Linked DNA regions of Homo sapiens: region 1 is linked to region 2. Evidence: fine-mapped QTL for protein levels in blood plasma. A gene starts in region 2. The other region holds a variant in brackets. All regions are shown on one strand. Distances are from middle to middle.

Evidence for each region. PIP is the chance, under the fine-mapping model, that this variant and not a neighbour inherited with it causes the effect. Protein levels are from antibody-based Olink assays in UK Biobank. Linkage for the fine-mapping came from a reference panel and not from the study's own genotypes, which makes the PIPs less certain.
Region 1: its variant is fine-mapped to the plasma level of the GALNT5 protein (UK Biobank, PIP above 0.99).

The regions. Positions count from the first base shown.
Region 1 is chr2:157,170,756-157,176,144 of GRCh38, reverse strand. No RefSeq gene overlaps it. Among named protein-coding and RNA genes, the nearest start is that of GALNT5, 84 kb to the left of the region's middle. The variant G/C (reference allele first, on the strand shown) is at 2,150.
Region 2 is chr2:157,255,402-157,260,790 of GRCh38, reverse strand. GALNT5 (polypeptide N-acetylgalactosaminyltransferase 5) reads right to left here and starts at 3,086. Exons shown (of 10, transcript NM_014568.3): 1 at 1,255-3,086. The coding sequence starts at 2,708.

The sequences.
Region 1 (5,389 bases), 85 kb after region 2:
GCCAAACCATATCAGAAACAAAAAACACTGATGATAGTATCGTGGTTTACTGTCTCATAAAACTAATGACCAAGATGTTTGGTGAGCTTTGATTCAATAATTTCATGCAAACCTTCTGTTATTTCTGACCTTCTCCTCTGCTATATTAGGTGTCTACCTTATGCCGAGACTGGTTCTTCTTGCATTTTCAAGGGGGAAGTAGTTCCTCATGTCAGTTGACCCTGCAGGTCTTCTTGTTCCCAGTCTGCAAAAGCCAGAGATGAACGTTTTATGTCAAGCACAGAATGCAAGTCTTTCCTTTTAGTCAGGCTACATCCCTGTCCCTAAACCTGTAGGAGACACCAGGAGGGAGCTATTTGTGGATGAACCAGGACCCAACTCTGCAACTGGGGATGAACTCAACTTCCCTATCATGATAGGAAGAGGTGAGAAGCTAGCAAAATTGAGGTTCTGGTAAAAAGAAAAGAAAGACAATGGAAATTGGCTAGTCTACCCAAAGTTTTCTGCCTTCATAAAGAGAATCTATGCTTTTTTATGGACCCCTGTGCTTTTTCTAAAGCTAATTATTTATAAGTGCTATCAAATAATTCTTAACTAATTACAAATTACACATATTAAGTGATTCAATTTATATCAAGTTAAGAGATTTAAAGTTATATAAGTGCATACAAAGAAGAGACATTTATCTAACTTCCAGAGATTATCATGCAGTGTTCAGAGCAAATCTGGATTTTTCCTTCCAAGTTTAAAAAAGAAGCATTTACCTTAAATTGCTTAGGGTGGTCTTTTGCAGTAAGACTAGAGTACGTTTCCTCTTTGTTAAAATGCTTTTCACAATCCCAAGACCTTTATTGCTTGGAACAAACTCAAATATTAATTTGAATATAGCATACTTTTTGATTTATTGTAATGGTAAATAGTTCAGATGCTATAGCAGGAAGCCTTTGAATCCTTCCCGGTCTCCCCACAGCCTCTTATTATTTGTGTCATCTTGGGTTGGATAATAAGCCATGCTGGTCCTTAGTTTTCTTGTGTGTAAAGTGGAGTTAATAATAGAACTTCCTTCATAGGATTGTTTTCATGATTAAAAGTGTCAGGACAAGATCTGTGCCTATATTATAATGAGAGCTCAATAAATACAAGCTAATAGTATTAGTTTCCTTAATAATCTTTATAGGTTTATTATTAAAATGATCCTGAAAATTATACTAATATAAATAGTCATAATTTATTAAGTCCCTACTACATGCTAGGAACTATGTAATTATATAATTATAAACTACATATAGGAAAGGAATATTCTCACCGTTTCACAAACGTATGTTCAGAGGATTTGAGTAACATCTTCTAGTTCCCACAGCTAGGAGACAGTTGAGCCAAGATTTTAACTCCTAACTTTCTATCTCTAAAGGCCTCCACTCTTCCCCTGTTTCATAAAGTAAAATCACTTTCTTGACATTTTATAGTCTTGTGACAGGGTTTTACAGACTTTTTAAGGAATCTAAGCTCCATTTAATTTTTCTCCAAAGTATTTACAACAGTTTTAAATGAAATAATAGTAAGTAGAGCTAGAGGTCAAATTTTGCAAATTTGGCATTACCGGCCAAATCTGGCCTACAGATGTGTTTGTTTGGCTTATACAATGTTTACATTTGTCTGAATTAATTACCGATGTTTAAAAGTGGGAGACTTCACATAAGAATGAAGGTTTATGGCTTCTGTTGAATTTATGAAAGTTCTGGCAATTCTGGTTCCATGTGCTTCCTTAAAAATCATTGAAATTTAGCTAAGTAAGGACTGTACCCTTTTAGACTGGACCAAGTCTCTGGCTTGATCATTCCCACTTATTTTAGTTGCCAGCCTCTCCCTGTAGATTGTAGTTTGTTTTGTGATCTTGCTGTAGGTGGTGAAAGTGATTTTTAAAATATGGTTTATTTTTCTTGGAGGAAAATGAAATGATAACATTAACCTTTCACTTACTTTTCCTGGTGTAGACTTAAATATACTGTTGTCAGCAAAAGTCTATTTCCCCATTTTGACACCGGAGCTGAAATGCTCTTTAGAAATGTGAGTCTCAGAAAAGATTCTCAAAAAGGGGACACCGTCATGTTCTCTGCTTGCCTAATAGAGGGCTTTCTGATTTGGGATT[G/C]AGCAAGGATAAACAACCAGCCTTAGAAGCATGTCCCTAAAACAGCACAATTCCTTGACGTCAGATCAGGTTTTCAAGCCATTAGGTCCTTCGTTCAGTGAGTATTTAAGATCTTAACACATGAATCATTCATAGAGTGAAGGAAAGAGCCTGCGGAATGTCTTCCTCTGTGGCAGGCATATGGATGAGATGTGGTATTGGAGGGTGTCCAAAACTCAGATTTCCAGAGAGCTTGGCAAGAATATGGAGAGAGGGATTAAGAAGTAGGAGGTTGTTTTAAAGCTTAAAGCATCTGTGCCAGTGGGACAAAAACACCACTACCTTTACGTTTTCCGCCCCTAAACTAACGAAGTTCTGTGGTTGTTTATTCTAGAAAAATAGGCGTGCCTTCCTTTAGGGAAAAATCAAAAGGCAAAATTCTACATTTACAAAAAAAGAGAGATTGGGAATTTATGTCATAGAGTACTGTCCTTTATAGAAAGATCTTCTGCAGTTTTTTTTTCCCCCAGAAAATAGCCTTCCCTAGGACATTTGTGTTATTGTTGTAGTTATAAAGAATTATAAGCAGATGAGAAAACTAGGGTTTGAGAAGTTGCCAAGTGTTCGTAGCAATCTCTGTGAGACCCGGGTTGAACTGGTCCTGGTGTCCTGGGTTTATCTCATCCTAGAGAACACACTCAACACTGTGCCCTGTGCCTCTCAAACTGCCAGTGCACCTTGTTTTCACAAAATAGTGTCACCCAAACCACAGACCTGTAGCTAAGACTATGCATCCTGGTTCACGTGAAACTAAGTATCCTTTCTATATATTAAAGATCTTTTATTTAGAAGTAAAGGAAGAAGGTACTTGAGAATTATTAATAACAACATTTTGGCACCTTTGTTCACTGAATTGTGGGGAGGTACCCAAAATGAATAGCAGATGTGGGAAGGACAGTAACAATAAGGCTTCTGTAAATGGAAAAATCCACAATATCTTTCAAGCATTTTCCAGAAGACTGAACTTTTGTACACTCTTTGTTGTTTTAAAATGTGCTCATATTGCTTGGGTGTTTTATTCATAATGAGACAGGTCACATTCATGCCAATGTACATGTGTGTTTTGAAATCCAGTAAAATAAAGGAAAAAAAAAAAAGTAAGGTATGGTAAAATTTCACATAAAATAGGCTTTTGGCTTATATTTACCGCTGTAGTATCTTCTTTAAAGATCTTATGTGAAGGGAAAAACACCTTAATAATATGTAGTTCCTTTTAGTCATATAACCTATTTGATTGCTTCAGAAGTTTGAGGCGGCATGGGTTTATGTCGACCCTTAATAAAACCATGGTTTAGTAGACAAAATATACCTGGGTTGTTTATTTTTCAATTAAAAACAATATTCTTAATACTTATTTGAAAAATACTTGTTTGGTGAAGAGGTAGGTTAATGACTAATAATTCTTTTAGATATGGCCACAAAATGGTGAGCACTCATGTCTGTGGAGTAGGAGGTGAAGAAAGAACCAAACACATGAGGTGATGATGAATAATTCCTCATGAGCAACCAGCAGTAATCATTTCCACAGCCATATTTAAAGTGCTGCATTGTGTTTGTCCAAGATCCAACCATGGACAGTAGACAATTTGGTATGTTTAAATTTTGCTTTTTGACTCATGGAAATAAACAGTCAGCACCTCAATTCAAGAACAGAGGCTCTCCAGCAAAACCAACAGCACACCAGGAAGAGGTTTACCTGTCTATTTATTCATTGGGCTGAAAGTAAAAAGACTCTTACAATAAAGAAATCAAGTAAAGTTTTTCAGCAAATGATAAATATGGAATATTTAAAGGTTTCAATCAAGGCAAACATTGCAAATAGATGGCATTTGAGTTTGTAATATATTATTAAATAAAACCAGTTAACCTATTGATCAGCACAGATAACAGGATTTATCCCTTTGTTAGAATGCTATTACACATGTAAAATTGCATTAACTGTGCACTTAGGCATGTTTTCTTTATGTGGCATGAATGGTCCCAGTTTATCCAGGTGTCTTGTATGCATGCCCTTTCGTTGTACCCTTCACTGCCTCGGTGATTGCCCATGTGACTTGCTTGGACCAATGGTTGGTAGCAAACTTGAGACAAGTAGAGTCTTGAAATAGCACTTGTAGGTTTCTATTTTTTTTCTCCTCAATTTTGCCATGAGAACATGCTTAAGCTCACCTGCTGAATGATGAGAGACACATGGTCTAGTCACTTCTGTGACTATAGCCATCAGATATGCGAGTGAGCCCACCTGAGACCAGCCCAGCAGAATTCAACTTGATTTGCTGACTTGAAGGCTTGTAAGCTTAGTAAAGGCTATTTAAGACATTAAATTTTGCGGTACTTTTATCATGCAGCATTTATATGCAATAGAGAGGAATACTTTTACTGAGGCAAAGAAGAAAGACATTTAGAATAAAGATATCAAGAAAAATAGATGTAAATAACTATGTTATTGCAATTGATACATAAGAAAAAAATTTTAAGGTTTCAATCATGGAAAACATAGTAATTAGATGGCATCTGAATTCTAGTTATTGTTAAAAGAAAATGTGTAATTAGTTGACCAGTATAGATCTGTCAAATATTTCTTTCTTTAATTAGATAAGTTGTTACACATGTAAAATTGCCTGACTTGGGTACATATGCATGTTTTCTCTGATTGCCTTATAAATGTGGCATGAATGTGCTTATATGGTTAATGCTGTTCTTTTTATGTGTCTTTCTTCATTTTATGCTAGAGTTCTCAGCAATTGGATTGATGTCAAAATTGGAACATTTTCAAAATACTTGGGATAAAATCAAGGAGAAAGTGAGGTGAAAAAATCTGTAGAGGTAAAACAAGAAAAAAGGTTTTACATCAGAATATGTCTATCAGTGAACTCTTGTGATATGGATCTACCCAGATGGGCAAGTATCAGTCCTATTGAAATAGCAGCCTTCTTGAATAATTTCCACTCAGCATAGTACAAATTAATGAAGCCTTTTTTGAGAGCAATATGATATAAAATGAGTCATATCTTAGTCTTCTTGCAAATGTAAATTGTCAACTATGAGGCCCTTTGGAAATAGGTGGATGGCATGGAGTTTTATTTATATTGGTTTATATAAGTATACTTAAACTGAAGACATTTTGGAACTTTCTGATTCAGGGGTTGTATATTCTCCTTCTGCTGCTACAGCTGACCTGGTTGCAGAGACCTGGGTAAG
Region 2 (5,389 bases):
CTGGTTGTAGCCGACATCACAATGAAGAGACTCTTCTTTCTAATGTGGATAAAGCTTCTCCTGTATCTGCCTTCCTCCTAGTAACACTGACTAAAATGTAATGCTGACTACCTAGATCACAAAGAAGAATTTTCTACAGAAGCCAAACAAGGCCATTGTTTACATGCCACATGTGCTAAGTCTCAATCTTGACATTCCCCAATCCAACTTCCTGGCAAATATTGTTTGACTTAGGGAACTGAGTTAACAGATATTGAACATACGGCTGTTGAGTACCTTCACTTATCAGTGGGCCAAGAAAAAAAATGCCAGGAACCCAATTATATTTGAATCAGATTAAATATCTATGTTTTGATCCACATCTGGTGATATAGTTATAGGAATTTAACTTTTTGAAGGACTGGTTACTGAAGGCCCATTGGGCAGCTTTAGAACTGCATTACCTTGAGAAAGTGTTGTAACTTCTGAGCGCCCTCGCCAGCTTGTTAATTTGAACCATAATGACTGCCTCCTCCTTTGCAGGGCTCATATGGAGTTCATCTATGTGTATGCAGGCTCTTTGTAAATAGTGAATGTCTACAAATATAAGTGATTATTATTATGCTTTTTATACCTCCTGTAGGTGTTTGCTGGTCATGGACTGATTGACTTTTTCCAACATTATGATTCCTATGTAACTGATCTCCTGAAATATCTACCATCTCCACCTATAAAGGAGATTAAATTTTAGGGAGTAAAGTCACTTCTCTTGCTATCCTGCTTATCATTACTTATGATTAGGCAGAATTCTGCTGGTTAAGATATGATTCCAGGGAGGCCTAGAAGAGTCCTTCTGTGTGCTTCTTTCCCAAATATATTCCTGACAAACTTGCTAATAATGAAAAGTTCCAAAATTGGGAATTCACTTCATTGTCACTATTCTAATGGAATTACACTTTAAGCTCTACCATTTATATACACGTTATTATGAACTGAGTTCATCTAATCATTTTAATAGGTTTTCAACAGAGGGAAGAAAATTGAACATGAGCTAATGGTAGGGACCAAAGTCTCAGAGAACAAGAACTCTGCAACTGCTAATAAGAGAATTTTTGTCTCTGTAGCTGGTGAAATATTTGAATGATATCCAATGATTAATGTTTCTTTAATTCTCTAGGTGACCAAAAATCACACAGAATTATCTAGCAATAAATCCTCTTTACATAACAGCCAAAGCACTTGGGGTTGAGGAAAGAGAAGAGAAATAGGTCTTACCCAGCAGGTCTGGTGTCTTCAATGGCTCTATCCACTGGGATCAAATCGCTAAGGTAGACATTGAAGTTTCCTTCTTTCCATCTTCTTTCTGCCTCCTTCTCCTTTCCATGGGGGACAACTACAGGACGCCCAAACTGCCCTGGAGCTTTGGGGTCCCTTGGAGAAAGTGTCACATCAATTCTTAACACCTGGTGCGTTCCACTGTCTTCAGGTAAAAGGGCTTTTATATGACTCTGGTTGTATTCTGTAGAGGGGGCTTTGGCAGTTATGTTGATTTTTGCTGGCTCTAGCCCTCCAGTTAAAGCATGGTTAGTTTGGGACAGTGGCACTCTATGTGGAGCAAGTGAAGAGGAAGACATCTCACTTCTATTCCTGGAAATGTGTTTACTTTGGCTTTTACCCAATACTTTAGGAAATATTGTTTTGGTTTTAGAATTAGAGACCTCTTTGGGGTCTGCCTTTTGCTCTTCCTCTTTGGTTATAATCACAAGATGGCTTTCAGAGAAATTGAGTTTCTTCCCATGAGCCCCTCTAGCTCCATCATCCTTTGACAAACTTCCCAAAGGTGTCTCATTAATAGATTGCTTCCTTAAGCGATTTGAATTGACAGTGAACTTAGGAAAAGGAAGACTCGTATTGGCTTTGTGTTTATTTGCATTGACTTCTTTGCTCTGAGTCTTAGTTTTGTTTAAGGCCATGGCTTCCCCAGACTTCGGCACTGCTGTGCTGGCAGGGTGTGCCCTCTCGTTTGCTACTGCCTGTGATCGCTGCTTTGGTCTATCAGTACTAAGACTGATGGTCACATTCAAGTCCCTTTCAGCTGCTAGTTTTGATGTGTCACTGCTGGGACTATGACTCTTCCGGGGCTCCTGTTTTAAACTGACACGTCCCATGTGTACTGATATTTTGACTACCTGAGTTCCTTTTGCTGCTATGAATGAGGTCTTTGGAGCCCCCTGAGCTGTCGTTTGCTTTGGTGTCCCCTGGTGAGAGGAGGCTTCAGGTTTGGTGCCTCTCCCGTCTGTCTTCTGCTTGTTAGGAGTCACAGGGAGGGTCTGCAGATGTGCAGGATGCCACAACGGCACAACCTTGCCCCTTCCCAGGGCATTCTGCATTTTTCTTTCCCTCTGGGTTTGGTCCAAGTCCACCTCAACCTTGAGCACACTCTCCTCAGTTTTTCTAACATTCTCTTTGCCCCATGCCCCTTTCCCATGTCCCCTTAGGGGAGGTTTCATCTCTTTTATGCTGCTGTAAAAAATTTTTCCTTGGTCTGGCTGAACTCTGAATCCTATCCGCTCCCTCCTCACAATGTCTTCCTTGATGACCCGAGTGTTGATCTCACTGAATGAGAGGCGGAGAGCTGCCATGTCAAAGAGGAGCCAGATGACAGAAGCTACAAAGATAAATGCCAAGACTCGCCCACTTCCTCGGAAAAACTTTCGGATCCTGTTCATGGTACAAAGCTTTCCCTAGCAGCCTGCCCTCCCTTAGCCTGCTTACCTTGAGTGGAGAGGAAGCTGAAGTAGCAGCAGCAGCAGCAGCAGCAGCAGAGTTGCCAGAAAGTGACCCCCTCCCCTGAACACAGCAGGAAGCAGCAGTCCAAGGGGAAAGCTCAGTTCCTACCGCTTGTCAGTCTCTGCCTGCGTGGCATTTCATAGCAGAGCATCTGTGCCTGCTTGGCTGGCCCTGGCTAAGTTCTGATAAACACTGGCCTTAGGTCACTCCAGGAGCAGTTGATTCCAGCCACCGAACAGTTCAACATATCACTTGTCTTGTCTCCGGGAGCCCATGTCCACCTTCCTACAAGCCCAAGAAAAGGTGGGGGCCAGATTGAGACTGCCGTTTCTCTCCTCCCCGTTCTCCGTCTGCACGCTGTAACTCAACACCACTTCTCATAAGGAAAACATTTCATGCCATTACCCAGAAAACTTCATTCAGCTCTCACCTTCTGTGTTATGTGAGAGCATGTGTGTTTAAACGGCAATTAAAGAGGAAAAAAAGCTATCTAACTTGGAGGGCATGTGTTCCTGGTTTGTGACCCCACCTACCCTACTCCTGCTCATTAACCCTGTTGTAGCCAGGTGCCAATGCTCTGCCTGAGGAATTTATCACTGAAGTTAACATTTCAGCTTTAAGACATAACAGCTTAAAGAAGGGGCCTGGTATATCCTCACTTCCAGAGATGTATATGTTTAATTATTTAGATCATTCATTCAAGGGGTTTCAATGTATTTCTTTGTAAGCCAACTATTTTTTTTTCACTAATCCATCTGTTTTTATTATTACATTTGATTACAAATAAACTTAATTTGTCATACTGCTATAAAAGTTTCTAAACACTTTGTTATGGTCTGAATGTTTATGTCCACCCAAAATTCATATGTTGAAACCTAATCATAAATGTGATAGTATTAGGAGGTAGGGCTTTTGAAGGTGATTTCATTATAAGGATAGAGCCCTCATGAATGGGATCAGCACCCTTAAAAAAGAGGCCCTATTGCCTTGCCATTCCACAAAGTGAAGACATAATGAGAAGGTGCCATCTATGAACCAGGAAATGGGCCTTCACCAGTCAACGAATCTGCTGGTGCCTTGATTTCTGACTTCTCAGTCTCTAGAACTGTGAGAAATAAGTTTCTGTTGTTTATGAGTCACTTAGTCTATGTTATTCTTCTATAGTAGCCTGAACAGATTAAGATACACTTACTCTCAGTTTCAGTACTTATCTCGTCTTAAACCAGCAAGCAACAGTTTCAGGACCACACCAGGACTTGGACCAGATTTTGAGTGATGCTGGTTGACTGGTAGGGTAGCAGTTCCGCCACAGGCTTTTCATTAGAACCACTTGAAACAAGATCCCCAAAACTCTGGTCAATTGATGAGAGAGGAGGTGGAGATGACATTTGGGCTGATATTGTATTAAATATATATATATATATATATATATATATATATATATATATATATTTTTTTTTTTTTTTTTTTTTTTACAAAGCTTCCCAGGTCTTTCAAATGTGCAGCTAAAGTTGAGAAACACTGGTCTAGAAAAAAAGTCTCAATTTTTTGTTTGTTTGTTTTTGGTTTTTGAACATTGCCTATGAGACATTTAATTTTAGGTGTCTACTTGACTGGGCTAAGGAACACCCAGAGAACCAGTAAAGCATTATTTTTAGGTATATCTGTGAGGGTGTTTCCAGAAGAGATTGGCATTTGACTCAGTGCACTGAGTGGGGAGGAGATGCCCTCACCCAATGTGGGCAGGCACCACTAATTGGTTGAGGGCCCAGATAGAAAAAAAGGCAGAGGAAAGGTGGATTCTGTCTCTGTTAGTGAGCTGGGACATCTTTCTTCTTCTGCCTTTGGACTAGAACTTTAGATTCTCTGGCTTTGGCCTCTGGGGCTTGTACCAGTCTGCCCCCACAACCTCCACATCCCTCACTAGGTTCTCAGGCTTTTGACCTCAGACTGAGAGTGATGTTATTGGCTTCCCTGGTTCTCAGGCCTTTGGACTCAGAATGTGCCATGTTACTGGCTTTCCTGGTTCTCCAGCTTGCAGGTGGCCTGGACTGAGGTTTCTCAGTCTCCATAACCACATGAGCCAATTCCTGTAATAAACTGCAACTCACTTATCTACCTCTATGAATCCTATTGGTTCTGTTTCTCTGAAAAATCCTGGCCAATACAGTCTACAACTTGTGTGACATTCCTTCCCTGTCTAAAGTACAGTCTAATAAAATCTATGCATTCCCATAACAACTAAATCAGAATACACATTTTGACATTGCCAGTTGTAAAGATTGTCCATAGAGTTTGAGAAGCACTTCTCGGGACCACTGTCCTTCTCTCTGAGGAACTCTGAGTGATTTGTGGACAACACTGCTGTTCATTACTCTAGTGTGGGGAGGGTCTAGCTTCCATGCTTTGAGGTAAACTTATGTTCCCAATGACTTGGGAGGGGAAGGAGAGATTCCAAATTCATATATATATCTCAAGCACTTTGCTAAGTTCTTTCCATTGACTATCTCACTCAATCCTCACAAGAATCTAATGTGAAGGAGTAAATTACAATATGTATTTTGTAGTCAGCAAATGAAACCTTAGAGAGGTAAAGCAACTTCTGGTAGAGATTGGAGGG